Linked DNA regions of Homo sapiens. The protein of the gene in region 1 purifies or fractionates together with the protein of each later gene. This does not show direct contact. Each region holds a gene or a part of one and is shown in the gene's direction. Other genes may lie near its edges.

Region 1 (3,110 bases):
TGGTGGGGCACATGGAGTGCCCTGGGAAGGATAATGCTGCACGCCCTTTCCCCGAGTGCCTGCAGCAATGTAGTGTGAGGATGCTGGGCCTTTGGGGTTCCTTAACACTTCAGGCTGGTCAGAGAGGCATGTGGCACTTTCAAGGCTCCAGGGGCACGATTTGGGTAAAAGGCTTTGTGATGCTGCCACATAAGTACTGATGTTGCACTCCATGGAGGCAGTGTGATACAGTGATGAAGGGTCCAGGGGCTCTGGATGGGCATCTTTCCTATGCCACCTATTAGTCCCATGTCCTTGGACAGGCTAGTTAACTATCCTCTGCCTCATTTTCCACGTCTTTGAAATGGGGCTAATGCATCCTATTTCTGGGTGTTGTGAGGGCTGGGTGTGACGTTGCCTGTAAAGCACTTACCCCCATACCCTGCACTTGGAAAAGGAAGGTCATGGCTGCATTATAGCCATCATCACCATTTCTTTTCACGAAGAGACTTCTTAGGAGTTCCAGGAGGAGATGGGTGTGAATTCCACAAACATTTATTGAGCATGTAGGTAGGTGTTAGGAACTCCTAAAAGTCACTGCCCCGCCTGTCCAGGGAACAAGGACTAGGGAACAGCCTGTTGCTCAGAAGTGGTCATGCAGATACAGTGCTAGGAGCTCAGTGGAGTTCTCAGCCTCTTCCAGCCAGGGGACATGGGGAAGGCTCTCTGGAGGCAGGAGTATCTGAGCAGAAACTTGAAGGGTGGAGAGGTTTGGAATGTTTGGAGAGGGTAGGGATGGGAGTTAGGGAGTGTGAGTCCTGCTGTAACACAGGTGTCCCCAGCTTCACCCTCCTTCCTTCCCTGGCAGGCGAGGCTGTGAGTGTGGTGGGCTTTGGCGTCTTTGGCCAGTCTTGCGGGCCCTCGGTGACCTCAGGCATCCTTTCGGCTGTGGTGCAGGTGAATGGCACGCCCGTAATGCTGCAGACCACGTGTGCTGTGCACAGCGGCTCCAGTGGGGGACCCCTCTTCTCCAACCACTCAGGAAACCTCCTTGGTAACCAGCTCTTTGGCCCCCTCCCGCCCTCCCACTTGCCAGAACCTCAGTCCCACCCCATGAGTGCTTGTGGCCAGCCCCAGTGCACCCTCTGTCTGGGAAAATGGTGGGCATTATGAGTGAGCTAGCGAAGGTTTGCAGGCTGTTCTCCTGATGGTGGAGAGGGACGGATGCTGGACTGGGAGGAAAGAGATCTGGGCTCTGGTCCCTTCTCTGCTACTAATCTAATCTGGTTTGATCTGTGAAATTGAGGAGTTGGATTAGTCAAAGCGTCACAGACTCAAAAGCCAACAGAGGCTGGAAAGATAAAGCAAATGAATGAGAAGACAACAGGGAGGGGAGGGGAGGGGTCTAAACTGAAGCGCACTCGACTCAGCTGCTGCAGACTGTGGCCATGAAGGAGGATGGGCCTAACGTTGGCTGGTATTCTAATATTTTCACAAGACATGTAAAGCTTTTTTAAAAAAATACATGTGGCCGTTAAATCGATCAATTTTTAAATTTTGGTAACATTCAGGTTTTTAAAAAACAGTCTGTTTAGCTGTCAAAAAGAAAAAAACATGAGTTCATCTAGAAACCTCCAACTCCAGTCCAGTCTAACTCTCCTTGTTTCTTCTTTCTCCTGTAGTGAAAAACCTTGCTCTTGTTGTCTACAATATGTTTACTTATCTGTTCCATCCTAGTATACAAGTAAAATTGTATTTGCATAACTTTAGTATATTTCCTCTAAATATTTAGTACTTACAAAGAGGAAATATTGGAGCCGTAAGTAATATTTAGAGCCATAAGTCTAGGCCTGGTGTGGTAGCTCGTGCCAGTAATCCCAACACTTCCGGAGGCTGAGGCAAGAGGATCACTTGAAATGGGAGTTCGAGACCAGCCTGGGCAACATAGTGAGACTCTGCCTCTATTTTTATTTAAAAAAATTTTTTTTAATTAAAAAAAAAGAAAGGAAAATACTAAGTCTACCTTGGAGAGGCCTGGCAGATACCACCTCAGCCAAGTGATCAAGGTGAACGTCAGAAGTACTCCATACAGACATCAGATAGCTGAGACACTGGGAAGGACACATGGCTTTTATGGTATTCTTCCCAATAATGTGTAACCTTAAACAATTAAAAGTAATGGCAAAACAATTAAAAGTAATGACAAAAACCGCATTCATTTTTGCACCAACCCAATAGTCATGAGAAAACATTAGGTAGGCCTCAATTGAGGGTCATTCTCTAAAATCACTGACCTGAGCCAGACATGGTGGTATGTGCCTGTAGTCCTGGCTCTGCAGGAATCTGAAGTGGGAAGATCACTTGAGCCCAGGAGTTCAAGGCTGCAGTGAACTATGGTCACCATTACACTTTAGCCTGTGTGACAGAGCGAGACCCATCTCAAAAAAATAAACAGTGTTTATTTAAAAAAAAAAAAAAAAAAGCCAGGTATGGTGGCTCGCACTTGTAATTCTAGCACTTTTGGAGGCCAGGGCGGGAGGATTGCTTGAGTCTGGGAGTTCAAGACCAAGCTGGACAACCATAGTGAGGCCCCATCTCTACAAAATATTTTAGGGAGGCTGAGGCGGGAGAATCACTTGAGCCCAGGAGGTTGAGGTTGCAGTGAGCTATAATCCCACCACTGCACTCTAGCATGGGTGACAGAGCGAGACCTTGCCTCTAAAAAAACAAAAACAAGAACAAAAAAAAAAACTGTAAATAAATAAAATAACCTGCACTTTTAAAAATGTCAAGGCCACGAAAGATAAGGAAAGACTGAGGAACTGACCCAGATTGGAGGAGATTTGGGAGATGCGACAACTAAATGGAATATGGAGTCCTAGACTGGATATTGGAACTGAAAAAGGACATTAGTGGAAAAACTAGTGCAACTCATGTCAATGAGTTCTGTAGTTCACTTAATAACAGTATTCTACCAAGGTATATGTTTTGGTTTTGATAAATATTTTTTGGTGACATTAGATACGAACATAAAGGAAAGCTGGTCAAAGGGTATATAGAATTCTGCAATATTTAGGCAAGACTTCTGTATGTCTGAAATTATCTTTAAAAAACTACACACACATCCATGC
Region 2 (3,500 bases), on another chromosome or scaffold:
GTTGTTGATGTATATTTTTTAAGTACCTCAGGAATTAAAGTATGTGTGCAGTGCCTTACATTTACGCAGATGAGGATATGTTTGTAGCCTTCTGGAGAGAACTAGAGAAGCCAACTTTTTAAAAATGGAAATTTGGAAATCCTTTGTGTGTGTGTTAAGGAAAGAAAAGTAAGAAGGAAAAAGAAAGTGAGCAACTGGGATTCAGGCAAGAATATCTGCTGTCATAATAATAATTTAAGTGACAGAGCAAGCTGCTGATAGGAGATGGTTATTATCCTGATAATATTGAATCTTCAGGTGGCATATGAAGTGAGTTTCCATAGTCCCTGAAAAGGAATATAGCAATAGAAAAATATGTTTCAGAGACTGAGATGATCTAATGAGCGATACTGATAGAGTATATTCCACGGTATCATTGGAGTTAGCCAGCCAGTGAGCTTACCTTCTGGAGGCTATTGAAATTAAAACTCCTAGGTTAAGTTAGTTTTTCTCAGGAGCCAGAAATGAAATTTAAAAACAAAATTTAAGCATATTAAATATTTTGCTCATCGGCTTTGTGAAAAGTTGAGATTACCAGCCCGGTTACCTGGTTCTAGCTGAACTCTAACAGGCTTGTTTATACATTATTTACTAATGTTTAGAATCTGAAATCCAAAATCACTTCTCCTCTTTTTCAATCATTATTTTCTTTGGTACAGGACTTGTTTACACTGGGCATGTAAACGAAACCATGGTCAGGTGGTCTCTTACCTGTTAAAATCAGGAGCTGACAAAGAAATTCTTACCACAAAAGGAGAAATGCCAGTCCAGTTAACATCAAGGAGAGAAATCAGGAAGATTATGGGAGGTGAGTCTGTGTTTGGGGGAACTTTTGATTTCCTCAGACTCATTGAAGACTTGTGGTATTATTGGCTACGTTCTTAATGCTGGTCAAACAACTGCTCTATTTCTTTCTTTTTTTTTTTTTTTCCGAGACGGAGTTTAGCTCTTGTTGCCCAGGCTGGAGTGCAGTGGCGTGATCTCGGCTCACCACAACCTCTGCCTCCCAGGTTCAAGTGATTCTCCTGCCTCAGCCTCCCAAGTAGCTAGGATTACAGGCATGTGCCACCACGTCTCGCTAATTTTGTATTTTTAGTAGAGACGGGGTTTCACCATGTTGGTCAGGCTGGTCTCAAACTCCCGACCTCAGGTGATCCGCCAGCCTCAGCCTCCCAAAGTGCTGGGATTACAGGCATGAGGCACCGCTCCCGGCAACTGTTCTATTTCTAAAAGCAAATTACTGTGCCAAGATAGTAATTCCAGATTGTTTCTGGGGAGGTCAGCATTGTAAGGTTTTATTTTTTTATTTGTAAAATTTAAGATAATGATAAAAATGGTAATCATAAACCTAATGAAGTATTCTTTTTTCTTCTGACCTGACACTGACCAATGTCACATACCAAAAGACACCACTTTCAAAAGACACCTTGTTTTGATAATTTTGAAAGGACTGTGTAAATGTTCTGTTTTCTTCTTTTTAAGTGGAAGAAGAAGATGATGATGATGATGATGATGACAACCTCCCCCAGCTGAAGAAGGAGTCAGAACTGCCCTTTGTTCCCAACTATTTGGCCAACCCAGCCTTCCCTTTTATCTATACACCCACAGCAGAGGATTCAGCCCAGATGCAGAATGGGGGCCCCTCCACACCCCCTGCATCACCCCCTGCAGATGGCTCACCTCCATTGCTTCCCCCTGGGGAACCTCCCCTGTTAGGGACCTTTCCCCGGGACCACACCTCTTTGGCACTAGTTCAGAATGGTGATGTGTCGGCCCCCTCTGCCATACTCAGAACACCAGAAAGCACAAAACCGGGTCCTGTTTGTCAGCCACCAGTGAGTCAGAGCCGCTCCCTGTTTTCTTCTGTCCCGTCCAAGCCACCAATGTCTCTGGAGCCTCAAAATGGGACGTATGCAGGACCAGCGCCAGCATTCCAGCCATTTTTCTTCACTGGAGCATTTCCATTTAATATGCAAGGTAACCCCTCATCAGCAAACAGCCTCTGCAACAGGGGAGTTGGTGTCCAGAGGGGTGGGATTTAATGAGGTATTCTGGGTATAATTGCAAACTTACAGAAACGTTACATGACTAACATAAGGAACTCCCTTTACTCAAATTCACAAATTGTTTACCTTTTGCCCTTTTACCCTGATACCCTTCAGTATTCTTTCCATTATATCTTTCCTAAGAACAAGGATATTCTCTCTTTTTTTTATTGAGACGTAGCTTCGCCCTGTCACCCAGGCTGGAGTACAGTGGTGTGATCTTGGCTCACTGCAACCTCCGCCTCCCAGGTTCAAGTGATTCTTCTGCCTCAGCCTCCCAAGTAGCTGAGATTACAGGAGCATGCCACCACGCCTGGCTAATTTTTTTTTTTTTTTTTTTTTTTTGTATTTTTAGTAGAGATGGGGTTTCACCATGTTGGCCAGGCTGGTCTCAAACTCCTGACCTTAAGTGATCTGCCTGCCTCAGCCTCCCAAAGTGCTGAGATTATAGGTGTGAATCACCGCACCCAGCTGGATATTCTCTTATATAACTACAGTACAAATGACCAAATTTGAGAAATGTAATCTTGAGCTAATGCTGTTCTGTAATCCATAGACCATGTTTAAATTTTGTCAGTTGTCTCAAACATTGCCTTTTGTATTCCCTCATCTACTATACGTACTGTCTGTACTATTACAGAAATAGTACTATCTGTACTATTGATATCTATCTGGACTATCTGTACTCCTCTGCCCCCTGCATCCTGCCCAGGATCATATGTTGCATGTAGTTATCACGTTGTTTTAGTTTCCTTTAATCTGGAATCTTTACCCTTTATCATTTTTGATCTTGATCTTTTTGAAGAGTCCAGGCCAATTATTTTTGTGGGATATGATTTTCTATCATTCTTTCTCTACTTATTAGTTGGTATTTTACTGTAAAGAAGGGCTTTCCCTTCTCCTTCATTCATATCAGTATTGACTCATATATTCTTATTTTATTCAGTGGGTTATAATCTGTTACTATCATTTTTTAATTATTCAAATTATCCCAGATTTGGCCAGTGGGAGCCCCTTGAAGCTAGTTCTTATGTCCCTTGCATGTGTCTTCATTGTTCTTGGAGCACTGCCTTACTTTCTGGGGCAGCAAGATGTTCCGGGCTTATAGCATAACTTTTCCTGCCCCAACCCTGGAATCAGTCATTTCTCCAAGAAGCCCTGGTTCTTTTTGGTGGAGAATGGTATTTAGGGCACACAGCAAACTTGCCTCCCACTTGGGCCCACCGAGAATGGTATTCAGACACCAGGATGTGGTCACTAGGTGTCCTCATTGCTACAGGTATATCATTTCTTCTAGGCCCGTTGAGAGGACATAGCCAGGAAAGATATCAATATTTCTCTATGTATAACTTTTTAAAAATATTAAAAACCACAAGTTCATCCTGATTCTTCCAAATCCAGTCAAATGCCATAGGG
Region 3 (3,500 bases), on another chromosome or scaffold:
AAGGTCAGAGAGGAAGAGCAGTGGGTGAAAGCAAATGATTTCCGTCTGTTCTTAACTCTGATGCATAAAAGATGTGTGTAAATACAGAGTTTTCTGATGAAGACCATAATAAATCAGTGGAAGATTTTTGGAGCTTTTGACTCTAGCTTTGGGGCTGCCCAGTCTAAAGTTACTTCTGAGATGAAATGATGTATCAGGGATTTTTTTTTTTCATTAGGCCAGGTATTCTAGCAGTTAATCTTGAAGTTGTGCCTGGTTGATCTTTTAAGATAATTGCCATCACCACATAGTTTAGAAATCTCCCACCCCAAGTTGAAGGTGATACACTAAAGAAGGGAGAGAAGCCAGAAGCCTCACTTTCATTCACTTAGTCATTCTTTCAACATGTCGTTTCCAGCACTTTTCTATGTGCCAGGTCTTGAGCTGGGTGCCTGAAATAAAAAAGATAAATAAGACTTCAAGGAGGTCTTACATATGCTCAATAAGCAAGACTGGGAAAAATAAAATATTTTTCTTTGTTAGAAAAAGCTGGGGAACTTTGCTTTAAGTACAATCCTTTGAGAAGGCTAAATCAATTACCCATTCACAATGTGGAATGTTACATTATGGATTTGTGTGAAACGGCACTTCTATAATGATTAGAGAGAGATGTATGTTCCCTTTAATATGCCACACAAGCTGTTCCACCAATTTTCTTCTCTTGGCCTTGGGCATACTTACTTGTCCGGTGCTGTTAGTATTATTAGAAATTATTAACAAATGGCTGTAAAGGACTATAGGTTATAGGAGCCAGTGGCTCTGCTTCCAGCTTCTCCCATTTTTTTTTGTTTTTCATTTTGAGACAGAGTATTGCTGTGTCGCCTAGGCTGGAGCGCAGTAGTGTGATCTTGGCTCACTGCAACCTCTGCCTCCTGGGTTCAAGCAATTCTCTTGCCTCAGCCTCCTGAGTAGCTGGGACTACAGGCGCGTGCCACCACGCCCAGCTAATTTTTGTATTTTCAGTAGAGACGGGGTTTCACCATGTTGGCCAGGCTGGTCTTGAACTCCTGACCTCATGATCCACCTGCCTTGGCCTCCCAAAGTGCTGGGATTACAGGCGTGAGCCACTGCACCTGGCCTCTTCTTTGTTTTAAAGCATGATTTATTTATTTATTTTGAGACAGCATCTCACTCTGTTCCTAGGCTGGAGTTGAGTGATGAGCTCATGGCTCACTGCAGCCTTGACCTCCTGGATTCAGGTGATCCTCCTACCTCAGCCTCCTGAGTAATCAGGGCTATAGGCATGCGCCACTACACCCAACTAATTTTTGTATTTTTTGTAGAGACAAGGTTTCACCATGTTGCCCAGGCCCATCTTAAATTCCTAGGCTTAAGCGATCCGCCCGCCTCAGGTTCCCAAACCGCTGGGATTACAAGCGTGAGCCAATGCGCCCAACCCTACAGCATGATTTACTCTGGCCAAGAGAGTTGCCAGGAAATTTGTTAATATTTAAAGCTTAGTTTTGATTCAGTCAATATTGCAAATCTAGCCCTATCAGAGGAAGGTCTTTAAAAACAAAGGCTATTTCATTTCCCAAGGATAATGAAATTACTGCATCTTTTATTATTGTTGGTTGCATTCCTACTCTTTTGAATTAGAATACTTTTATCAAAAACAAGAATATTCAATTAGTGGTAGAAGGCACCTAATTCCAATCCTATCTATTACTAACTAGATGTATAACCTAGTAAAAGTGACTCACTTCTCTCTAATATTTGTTTCTTTATGTAATAGAGAGTTTCATACATTTTTCTAAAGTCGATTCTAAACAATATTAGAGTTAAGTATTGTGTGGAAGAAGCAAGAGTTTGAAAATAAAGTTTTATACTGACATTAGTTTTTTTTTTCTTTTTTTGTTGAACCACCCAAGAATGCATATGCTGACATTAACTTAATGTAACATTTCTGTCCCCAGATTTAGTGCTATACAATGTGCAGCTGCCGTCCCTAGAGCTCCTGCTGAATCCTCTTCGTCTTCCAAAAAGTTTGAGCAGTCACATCTTCACATGTCAAGTGAGACACAAGCCAACAATGAGCTGACCACCAATGGTCATGGCCCACCTGCATCCAAGCAGGTTTCCCAGCAGCCCAAAGGAATTATGGGAATGTTTGCCTCCAAAGCTGCTGCTAAAACCCAAGAAACCAACAAGGAAACGAAAACAGAGGCTAAAGAAGTAACAAATGTAAGTCTTCTTTGAAGATACCCCTTCATTGCAGCTCAGAGTGGGTAACTAGAAAAGCATTAATGGTTGCAGTGGTAGTAGTTTATTTATATAAGATTCTGATATTCAGTTCTGATTTTTCTACTTTAGTTTGAACCCTTTAATACTTGATATTGTTATCTGAAAGAGTTCTTTTGCTTTTGATAATGATTCTCACCAAACCTTGGATTTCCTTTGCAAAATGGTAATGCCTACCTTGTGCACATTACAAGATTGTTGTGAAACCCAGATGAAAACATGTGAAAACACCTCGAGAATTGTTGACATTCAAAAAAATGTTTATTTGCAATATGTCTTTCTGAGGAACATCTTATATTCTGGGCTTTGCAACATATACCTTCCTTCCTAGTGTATTTCCCATTCTTATACTTTATGCAGGTTTTTTTGTTTTGTTTTTGCCTTATTTGCTTCTCTTAGATTTTTATTGTTCAGTCATCTGAACTAACTCAAGGGCATTGACTTAAGAAAAGTATCATTAAGATACTATTTTAAAAATCCAGAAAAGCATAATTATTGTTGTTACTATTATTATTATCACTGTCATTTTCCAGTGTCAAGTGTATTTAATTCAGATCACTGTCATTTTCAAGCGTCTGTCTTGGGAAAGAAGAAGGATGGAGGAAAACACTAACGTTTATTGAATTTCAACTGTGTGCCAGTGTCTTTGTTTAAATCCTCTTATCAGTTCTGTGAGGGAGATATTAACTATTTCCCTTTCGCATATGGTAAAACTGAAACCTAGACTTAAGTAATTTGCCTGGAGCCCATATTGCTACTAAATGGTGGGAACCAGGAATTCAGATCTACTTCTGATGATTAAAAATGTAATGTTTTAGGTTTTCCCGCTTTGTGTACATACTGCCTCTGATCTTTTTTAATTCTGTCAAATTAAATAGTTTTTAAATGTGCTCAAGAAAAGTTTAGCTATATCCATGGATAATTAATTTTATAAGATATATAAGAAACTAAGCTTTAGAGATTAACACCAGTTACTGTCTGGTGTGGATTATTGTTCTAGATTTGTTCTTATATCTAACACCTACGCGTTTTGGCATGATTATATAGAGACTATACCATCGCAACAGTTTGCTATAGAAGAGTTTGTTTGAGACTGCTACTTCATGAACAGCCTAAATGCCAGCAAAAAATCATATGTGTTTTCTGTGCTTGTAGGCATCTGCAGCAGGCAACAAGGCACCAGGGAAAGGGAATATGATGAGCAACTTTTTTGGAAAAGC
Region 4 (3,370 bases), on another chromosome or scaffold:
GAAGGGGATTGTGACAAGACCAGAAGCTGAGCTATAGGAAAAGGCTTAGCAAATATTGCTGCAAGATCTCAAAGTGGGGCAGTGGGAATTGAGCTTGTTTTCATTGCCTATTAGGATTTTGTTAAAAACTTATATATGTATGTTTTTACTCTCATTAGGCTATCACATACCCTGAATTGAACTTGGGAAGGGGGCAGAACTGACTCTACAAGTCTTAGAGCATTTGGCTATTAGAGCATTCCTTGGCTGGGTGCAGTGGCTCACACCTGTAATCCCAGCACTTTGGGAGGCCAAGGCTGGTGGATCACTTGAGATCAGGAGTTCAAGACCAGCCGGGCCAACATAGTGAAATGCTGTCTCTACTAAAAATACAAAAATTAGCCGGGGCATGGTGGCGGGCACCTGTAATCCCAGCTACTCAAGAGGCTGAGGCAGGAGAATCATTTGAACCCAGGAGGTGGAGGTTACAGTGAGCCAAGATCGTGCCTCTGCACTCCAGCCTGGGCAGCACAGTGAGACTCTGTCTCAAAAAAAAGAAGAGCATTCCTTTTCTGGAAAAGAAATTGCAAATGGAGAGAGGATATCCACTTAATGTCCTCAGTTTTTTCGGAAGCTAACTATAAGTCTTTGCTTTCCTTTAGTCAAATAGAACTAATTTGAGTACCAATGCAGGTAAAGAAAACTCTCAGAGCCAGATCACTGGGTAGTTTCCAGAGAATGGAATTTTGAAAGTTTCTAAAGGTTGACCCAATGACCGTAATTTTTCTCTCCTTTTTTCCTCTGTAAAATAATAGTTTATAGTGTATCAAATGGAAAATCATAGCTGCTGTGGGTTATAGAATCAAGCATCTGCTTCAGATCATTTCTGCCCTGGACCCCCTGATCTTGCCCCTCCAACAACGATACACAGAAGCAGCAGCCCTTATAGACCTTCCCAGGAGCCTGTCTCAGCACACAGTTTGCAAACCGTTGCCTATTGAGGTCATCAGCTTCTCCCTTACTGAGAAATACCAGCAACCTCAAAAGACCATGAGTACATCTCTCTAAGCCTCCTGAAAGCAGTTAACTGAAGCCTTGTTTTATTAAGTTAGTATCTTAACCTTGCTTCTTGCTTTTCATTTCAGGCAACAGAGATGCTTATTTTTGGAAAGAAGTTAACAGCGGGAGAGGCATGTGCTCAAGGACTTGTTACTGAAGTTTTCCCTGATAGCACTTTTCAGAAAGAAGTCTGGACCAGGCTGAAGGCATTTGCAAAGCTTCCCCCAAATGTTAGTATTCATCTTTTACTTCTAAGAACCTTGAAAATGATTTCCTAAGGGAAAAATTTATTTGCCTTCAGAGAATAAGTCATAAAAAGCACAAGACACATCTTTAGTTACCTCTAAGCACATCTAAATTTGGAATTAAAAAATAACTGTAGTAATGTTGGAAATGCAGTACTGATTTTTACAAAACTTATCAAATAGACCTTCCATTTCTGTGTGGGGACAGAGGGCAATTCTGTATGGGGATTACTTGAGCAGGATGCTAGGCAGTATTTGCTGAGCACTTTTACTTTGGAATCCAGGTGAGAAGCATGGATTAGCTACTTTGAGAGTCTTATTGTATAGCACTTTTGTTTTTGTATGTGGTAGTGAGTGACTGATTGCTTTTATATTCTTGCTATTCAAAATGTAGTCCTGGAGCCAGAAGCTTGAGCAGCTACCTGAGGCTTTTTGGAAATGTATTATCACAGGCCTGCCCCACACCTACTGAAGCGATTTATATGCACACTGAATTTTGAGAAGCACTGTCTTATATTACACATGCAGCTTAAGATTTAACAGCATTAGGGCCGAGAACAGTGGCTCACACCTGTAGTCTCAGTACTTTGGGAGGCCAAGAAGGGCAGATCACCTGAGGTCAGGAGTTCAAGAACAGCCTGGCCAACATGGCAAAACCACATCTCTATTTAAAAAATACAAAAATTAGCCAGGCGTGGTGGTGGGCGCCTGTAATCCCAGCTACTCTGGATGCTGAGGCAGGGAGAATTGCTTGAACCCGGGAGGCAGAGGTTGCAATGAGCCAAGATTGCACCACTGCACTCCAGCCTGGGCGACAGAGTGAGACTATGTCTCAGAAAAAAAAAAAAGATTTAACAGGATTTATTAAATGAACATGGGAGAAACAAGAACCAGAATCATAGAATAATCTCACTCCTATTAGATTAACTCTTTTTTTCTTTTTGAGACAGAGTCTCACTTGTCACCCAGGCTGGAGTGCAATGGTGCGATCTCAGCTCACTGCAACCTCCGCCTCCCGGGTTCAAGCAATTCTCTTGACTCAGCCTCCTGAGTAGCTGGGATCACAGGCATGTACCACCACAACCAGCTAATTTTTGTATTTTTAGTAGAGATGGGGTTTCACCATGTTGGCCAGGCTGGTCTTGAACTCCTGACCTCAACTGATCTGCCCGCCTCGGCCTCCCCAAGTGCTGGGATTACAGGCATGAGTCCACGTCCAGCCTAGGTCAACTCTTAACCTTATTGTTGGTTTTGTTTTTCCAGGCCTTGAGAATTTCAAAAGAGGTAATCAGGAAAAGAGAGAGAGAAAAACTACACGCTGTTAATGCTGAAGAATGCAATGTCCTTCAGGGAAGATGGCTATCAGATGAATGCACAAATGCTGTGGTGAACTTCTTATCCAGAAAATCAAAACTGTGATGACCACTACAGCAGAGTAAAGCATGTCCAAGGAAGGATGTGCTGTTACCTCTGATTTCCAGTACTGGAACTAAATAAGCTTCATTGTGCCTTTTGTAGTGCTAGAATATCAATTACAATGATGATATTTCACTACAGCTCTGATGAATAAAAAGTTTTGTAAAACAAGCTTAAGAATTCACACAGGTGTTTGGTAGTAGAGAGTCTTACGTCTTTTGACATGAATCGTTGTTGCCAGGAACACTGGAACATGGTGCCTGGGGTCCTACTTTGAAAAGCACTCACAGCATTACAGGCTGAAGTCATGTCTTTGAATGCCACTATAGCACTTTGACGTCCACAAACAGTGGCTGACTGAATTGGGCCAAATGCTGACAGCCTACAGATCACTGACTTGAGGTCTTCAGTGGGTTGCATGTTCTTTTTCAGCCATGTAGCAAGGGAGCAAAATGGAAGGAATAGTATTACTAGAAAACAAATAAGAATCAAGAATAAGAATAAGAACCCAAATAAGAATCTTAGTTGGGTTTTTTTGCACAATTTAATAAAGAGGCATGAAGGGAAAACTGGGTCATTTCATTGGAAAGCAATGCTCTGTATGAGTAATTGTTTTCTTATTTGTTAGAGTCCCATTCTTGTTTAATGTGGTACTTTATGAAAGGCATCCC
Region 5 (3,035 bases), on another chromosome or scaffold:
CATTACTTTATTGACCTTGTTAAACAAGATCAATATCATTAAACTGACCAAGATGGAAATTACAGGACTTGTACCAGACTTGAACTTGTAGCCTAATGATACACATTTTTACAATATTTCTTCACCATTTAGTTTTCTTTCTTTTAGGTCTCAGGATGCTCAGCTTAATTTAGAGTATGTGTTAAGTACATTGTTTCAGCGTCCAGAGAATTTTGTGAGTGTGGATCCAGTGAGGAGGTGAACAGTAACTAGAAATGCTTGTTTACTACTTGGCATGTTTTTTCCAAAGTGTTTCTTCTTTAGCTTCATACATCACATATGGACACTGATGACATGTGAATGCATGCCACATAGTAACAAGAATGATCTTGCCAACTCCTTCCAAGCCAAAAGAAGCCTCTGGGAAGGTGTGCCAATGGTGAAAACGTACAGAGGGTCAGGGTGAAGCAGTGATCTCTATTGGCTGAAAAACTGATCAGGTCATATGATGATTGAAGTATGTTTATTGTAAGGGCAGAAATGTGTTGGCATTTGGATAAAAAACTGCTAACATTATAGAACTTATTACCTAACAAAATTTCACACCACAAAAAATATTTTAATGGCAAATTCAAGGTGTTTTATTGCTTACAAATCAGCATCTTTGACTCTTTGAACATCAATTTGTGTTTACATTGAAATGACAAAAAGACAAACTAAGAAGAAATACAGCATGCAAGTTGGAATTCAGAGTTAAAACCATGATGTTGCCGCTCAGCCAGCTATGTGACTGTTGACCCTTTCAAGAACACACATGGATTTAAAAGTTGGATGACATCCATTGTTGGGGCCTTGGGGGATATGGTAAAGCATGAAAACTAAACAGCCAGGAGCCTGTGAAATCTGCTACTGTATTTTCCAGGACTTCATTCCACTCCTTGGCTAAAAAAATCTTGGAAGTTTCACAGATTATGATGTGGACCTGTCACCTGTAAATTGTCTCAATCTACTCAGACAAGACACTAAACTGTCTTTGGATACTATAGATGTCAGTGCTTATAGCAGCTGGAATTTGGCTAGTGACAATGTTTAAAGATGTAATACTAGTTAGTATCTATTGAAGCTTAAACTTTGCTGGTCAGGTTGTAGCTATTGTAAAAGTATTTATTGAAGAAGCTCACAGTCCTTCAGTTGTACAGACTGAAAAACTTTCATGAAAGATCCAACATACTAATGTAAATTATATTTATTACAATGTATGATATTAATGTGTCAAACTGGTGTATTTTACAAAATATATAATGCATACATAAATAAGAGTTGTATATTACAGTGCTTTTCAAATATCAGTGTCTTGGAATATTTAAGTCTTCACATTTTTTGGTCTAAAATATGAAAATGTTTCATGATACAAGTGATTAATTTTCCCTAGTAGTGCTTTTGCATGTTTGCCTTTTTATTTAAGTTTTTTTCTATATAGACACAATTTGGTGTCAGACTATCATAAGATCGATAGTGAATATAAAATATCTTAGCCAAATGGGGTCTGTATTGTCTACATTTTATATATTAAATAAAAGTTTTTGTTGTCTTTTCAGGAGGTTTAGAGTATTGTCACTAAATATGATCAAAGCTTCCCTTTCCAAATGCAAAAGTCTTGTCCTACATTTAAAGTTGATCTGTCATGTTTTAGCAGTCAAGTGGGATGGGCATTATATAAACAACGTTACAATGTAAGGAAAATCTTTAAGGAGATGGGGAGAGAAAAAGGCAGCTGGTATAATCGGTTACTGCTGCTTAGTTCTACTTAATTTTTTGTGTTGCTTCTTCTTAAGGTGAGATAGCATAATCTTAACTGTTTTGAGATGGAATTTTAAAGTAACACACTACCAGCGAGTTCAACACTGCTATTGATTTTAATCTGTTTTTTTTTGTTTAGTTGATAACTTAAATTCCAAGTTTCATAGTGATAATTGTATATTATTTGGCTGCTGAATTCTGTTAGAGTTTTTTATTCTGTTGTACATTGTATTATACACATAATCACAAATTAATATGAAGGTGAATATATGTTACATATCAAAATTTGTGAATTTGAATTATAGTATGTTTTAGTGCTATTGCAAAAAATGTTTATTTTTATATTATCTGTGATTTTAATATAGATGATTGAACTAGATTTCTTTTTGAGTGATAGTGCCATTGAATGAGCAGTATGGAAACAGTGTTACTTGATATTTTGAGCTTTCTCAGGTTTATCTAAATCAGTGGTAGCTTAACAAAACCCAGACTAATTGTGTGTAATTGTATTTTTAATAAAAGGAAAGTACATTTCCTATAATAGCATAGTACTGTTTGCATGTAAGAGTATGCAAAACCTTGTGTGTGTGTGTGTGTGTGTGTGTGTGTGTGTGTCTTAGTGTGTGTAAGGCATGGCAGCCAACTTTGTATCTGCTATTTTTAGTACGAGCAGAGCTTCATAATTGTGGTCACTAGAACTGTACTTACCATGGACAGTTAAAACTGAAAAAGACTCAATAAAACTATGAAACATGGTTTGATGGCTTCTATGTTATTACAGTGTTAATACTCACAAGTTTTGCCAAACTTTAACAAATAATGTACAGACTGAGAAGTACTGTAAAACACATTGAACTAATTCAGTTGTTTTTTAAGGTGAAGACTGGGCTCTAAAAACTACGGTGTTAAAGGTAGAATCCTGGTGCAAGATAGGTAAAATTATCAATATTTGATATTCAATTGCCAATAGGAATGTGAGCTAATTTTTTATTGTAAAATACTTCATGCTACCTTAATGTGTGCTTCTCATACTGGTGTTCTGTGTTTAAAATGTTGGCTGTAATTTTTTCTCATCTAATTTTTAATCAGGGTAACCACGCTAATAATTCTTTGTGGATTCTATTTATTAGCATACATCACCTGCTTTTTCCAGGTTTGTTAAAAAATGTATTGTGCCACAGTGAAAATGGTGTACAATGAAATGGGAGCATGCTTAAAGCATTACCTTTTTTTTTACCTCAGTTGAGAAGGTAAGT
Region 6 (3,500 bases), on another chromosome or scaffold:
TTGTGAGGATTCAAATATAAGAAAGGGATTATTCTTGGTAGAGTTAACAAAATTGTACCAAATGACTTTTTGTGTTAAACACGATTCATTCACCCAACCCTAGAAAGGAGCCTGAATGAAGTCTAATTTGGGTGACAGATTCCCACACAAATTAGATGTATGTCATTCAGGTATAGAGAATTGATTTTATATTAGAAAAAACAAACCTTGTAAACAGTTTTATAAATAACTGTTTCATGATTTTCCTTAAGTAGTACTGATCTCTTACATATAGATCGTTTGTGTCTTTCGCCTCAAGTTAGTATAGAACAGGGCAAGTGGCAAAGCTCGAGGAAAGTGTGACCTGAGGTACATGCTGTCAGCTTGATGCTGGAGTTTGGCCTCTCAAATCTCTAACCTGTTAAATGAAGTTAATTAGGATTAATTTTTTTTAATGTATGTTTACTACTGAAAATAAGTGCTCGGCCAGACGCAGAGGCTCACGCCTGTAATCCCAGCACTTTGGGAGGCCGAGGCTGGCAGATCACCTGAAGTCAGGAGTTTGAGACCAGCCTGGCCAACATGGCGAAACACTGTCTCTATTAAAAATACAAAAATTAGCTGGGTGTGGTGATACATGCCTGTAATCCCAGCTACTCGGAGCCTGAGGCAGGAGAACTGCTTGAACCCAGGAGGCGGAGGTTGCATTGAGCCAAGATTGTGCCATTGCACTCCAGCCCAGGCGACAGAGTGAGACTCATGTCTCAAAAAAAAAAAAAAAAAAAAGAGGAAAAGAAGTGCCCAATAGCTTCAATGGATGCCACATAATTTTGGAATAATTTTTACAATCAGGAATTTCATTGTCCAAGCCCCTTAGAAAAAGAAGCAACCCAGCCCCATACCCAGAAAGTCAAGCTGTATAGTGCTGTTCCTTAGTGAGACGGTCAACTCTCAGTAGAAAAATCTCCTGTTTGGATTAGTGCTTAGTTGACCTATTGTGTTCAGTTCCTCTAACATGAGTAACTTCTATTGGATAGGAAATTTTGAAGCTCAAAGGGTGTAATGAGAGTTAACATTACTGATTTTCCACTGTTACTTTTTAGTGTTTTCATAACTTGGATGTGTTAACCTATGGCCCATCAACTATGCTCCTAGTCTCAGGTGACAACATGTTCAATTTAAGATGGCAGGCAGTACAGTGGACCTCTCTCATCCCATGGGAAGGAACCCAGGATGTTTATTATGTAGTATTGTATAGTCTCTGCAGCAGTAATAGAGAAAGTTAAAGGTAAGCGGTGGAGAAGTAAAATCTAGAGTTTCTAATATAACCCTTCTCACTTTTCTTTTCAAAAAAAATAAGAGGGTCTCACCATGTTGCCCACACTGGTCTCTATCGAACTCCTGGGCTCAAGCGATCCTGTCGTCTCAGCCTCCCAAAGTGCTAGGATTACAGGCATGAGCCACTCTGCATGGCCAAGCTCACTCTTCTTAAAGGTCTGCTAGTAAGAGGGTTTCTACTTTTTGAAACAAATTCATGATTACCTAAAATGAAGCTAGGTTATGAAGTATATATAAATATGCAGCCCAATAGGCTGGGTGTGGTGGCTCACACCTGTAATCCCAGCACTTTGGGAGGCTGAGGCAGGCAGATCACTTGAGGTCAGGAGTTTGAGACCAGTCTGGCCAACATGGTGAGACCACATCTCTACAAAAAATACAAAAATTAGCGGGTGTGGTGGCCTGTGTGCGCCCATAGTACCAGCCACTTGGGAGGCAGAGGCAGGAGAATCACTTGAAGCCAGGAGGCAGAGTTTTCAGTGAGCTGAAATTGTGTCACTGTACTTCAAGCCTGGGCAATGGAGTGAGACTGTCTCAAAATATATATATATTTGCAGCCCAATAAAGATACTTAGATAAAACTATTGGGTTTATTCCTTGAAAACTAGGGCATGTGTAGCTAGATCTGGCTCATAAAAAGCAAAGTTATTTACATATATTTTAAGGTAAAATTGCCTCTGATAAATGTCAAAGAGGAAGTTTAGGTCTTTCTTCTGGCAGAAAGCCAGAGAGTAAGTGCTGAATGTGACGCAGAATCATGTTAGGTAACAAGGACTTTGAGGTAAGTGGCTGAAGTCTTCTGTGGAGTCAGCCGACTCTTGCAGGATTGTGTGGTATCAGTCACCTTTAGCATTTGCCAACCCAACTCTGATCATTCTTCTTCTTTCAAGGTATCTCAGCGTTTGAGTCAGCCAGGAGTAGCAATAGGTTTGGCTTGGACTCCCTTAGGTGGAGAAATCATGTTCGTGGAGGCGAGTCGAATGGATGGCGAGGGCCAGTTAACTCTGACCGGCCAGCTCGGGGACGTGATGAAGGAGTCCGCCCACCTCGCTATCAGCTGGCTCCGCAGCAACGCAAAGAAGTACCAGCTGACCAATGGTAGGAGCCTGCACCCGGCCAGGCAGGCGTGACCCAGGAGGCGGTACCTTCCATGGCGGAGACTGGCATGAGCTCGAGACTGCCAGTTACACATCTAGCAAAGTACACACCGTTTTGAACCCCTGTGGAAATCCTAGTTCCCATTTCAGGACTATTTGACTAGTGCCTGAACTAGAAACTAATTCAAAAGGTTTATTTTGTTTTAATACGACTTAGAGTAGAATGGAACTGTTCTTCCACACCCTCACCCAAATTGTACTGTCCACCAATATTTTGAAGAATTCATTTACCCAAAACATTCATTTTTGTTTGTGACTTTTTTTTTAGGAGAAAAAGAAAACAGGTTTAATTTTTCTACATTAAAGTCCCTTTTTCCTTTTTAAAGCTTTTGGAAGTTTTGATCTTCTTGACAACACAGACATCCATCTGCACTTCCCAGCTGGAGCTGTCACAAAAGATGGACCATCTGCTGGAGTTACCATAGTAACCTGTCTCGCCTCACTTTTTAGTGGGCGGCTGGTACGTTCAGATGTAGCCATGACTGGAGAAATTACACTGAGAGGTCTTGTTCTTCCAGTAAGTATGAAAAAACAATTTATATGGTTATTTTTTATTTAATTTTTGAAAATTAATATTATTTTTAAATACGGGTTTGCCTTCTTTCTATGAAAACCTTGGTTTTAAGTATATATTATATTTTTATGCCTGTAACTAATTCATATTTTAAAATTTTGATCAAATAAAAGAAAAACTGACAATTTTTCACATTTTCCTTTTTTTTTTTTTTTTTTTTTTGAAATAGACAGGTCTCACTCTGTTGCCCAGGCTGGAGTGCAGTGGTGTGACTGTAGCTCACTATAGCCACCAAGTCCTGGGCTCAAGCGATCCTCCTGTCTATCTCCCGAATAGCTGGGACTATAGGAGCACGCCACCATGCTCAGCTAATTTATTTTATTTTGCGTAGAGACAGGGTCTCTCTGTGTTGTCCAGGCTTGTCTCAAACTCCAGGTCTCATGCAGTCCTCTCATCTCCACCTCCCAAAGTGCTGGGATTACAGGCGTGAGCCACCACATTCAGCCCACGTT

Evidence for each region.
Region 2: the proteins of TYSND1 (region 1) and ANKRD40 purify together in Homo sapiens (affinity purification with mass spectrometry; 2 studies listed by BioGRID and IntAct, with this or other methods). This does not show direct contact.
Region 3: the proteins of TYSND1 (region 1) and POLD3 purify together in Homo sapiens (tandem affinity purification; one large-scale study listed by IntAct). This does not show direct contact.
Region 4: the proteins of TYSND1 (region 1) and ECI2 purify together in Homo sapiens (co-immunoprecipitation; one study listed by IntAct). This does not show direct contact.
Region 5: the proteins of TYSND1 (region 1) and P2RY1 purify together in Homo sapiens (co-immunoprecipitation; one large-scale study listed by IntAct). This does not show direct contact.
Region 6: the proteins of TYSND1 (region 1) and LONP2 purify together in Homo sapiens (co-immunoprecipitation; one study listed by IntAct). This does not show direct contact.

What each region holds. Positions count from the first base shown.
Region 1 is NC_000010.11:70,140,591-70,143,700, reverse strand, and holds part of TYSND1 (peroxisomal leader peptide-processing protease), read left to right. Parts: intron 1-847; coding exon 848-1,033; intron 1,034-3,110. UniProt on the Homo sapiens protein: Peroxisomal protease that mediates both the removal of the leader peptide from proteins containing a PTS2 target sequence and processes several PTS1-containing proteins.
Region 2 is NC_000017.11:50,697,915-50,701,414, reverse strand, and holds part of ANKRD40 (ankyrin repeat domain-containing protein 40), read left to right. Parts: intron 1-698; coding exon 699-847; intron 848-1,521; coding exon 1,522-2,016; intron 2,017-3,500.
Region 3 is NC_000011.10:74,616,582-74,620,081, forward strand, and holds part of POLD3 (DNA polymerase delta subunit 3), read left to right. Parts: intron 1-1,955; coding exon 1,956-2,223; intron 2,224-3,435; coding exon 3,436-3,500. UniProt on the Homo sapiens protein: Accessory component of both the DNA polymerase delta complex and the DNA polymerase zeta complex.
Region 4 is NC_000006.12:4,115,206-4,118,575, reverse strand, and holds the end of ECI2 (enoyl-CoA delta isomerase 2), read left to right. Parts: intron 1-1,124; coding exon 1,125-1,268; intron 1,269-2,546; coding exon 2,547-2,702; 3' UTR 2,703-2,870; downstream 2,871-3,370. UniProt on the Homo sapiens protein: Able to isomerize both 3-cis and 3-trans double bonds into the 2-trans form in a range of enoyl-CoA species. Has a preference for 3-trans substrates.
Region 5 is NC_000003.12:152,838,905-152,841,939, forward strand, and holds the end of P2RY1 (P2Y purinoceptor 1), read left to right. Parts: 3' UTR 1-2,535; downstream 2,536-3,035. UniProt on the Homo sapiens protein: Receptor for extracellular adenine nucleotides such as ADP. In platelets, binding to ADP leads to mobilization of intracellular calcium ions via activation of phospholipase C, a change in platelet shape, and ultimately platelet aggregation.
Region 6 is NC_000016.10:48,345,300-48,348,799, forward strand, and holds part of LONP2 (lon protease homolog 2, peroxisomal), read left to right. Parts: exon of another isoform or gene 1-1,612; intron 1,613-2,207; coding exon 2,208-2,415; intron 2,416-2,800; coding exon 2,801-2,991; intron 2,992-3,500. UniProt on the Homo sapiens protein: ATP-dependent serine protease that mediates the selective degradation of misfolded and unassembled polypeptides in the peroxisomal matrix.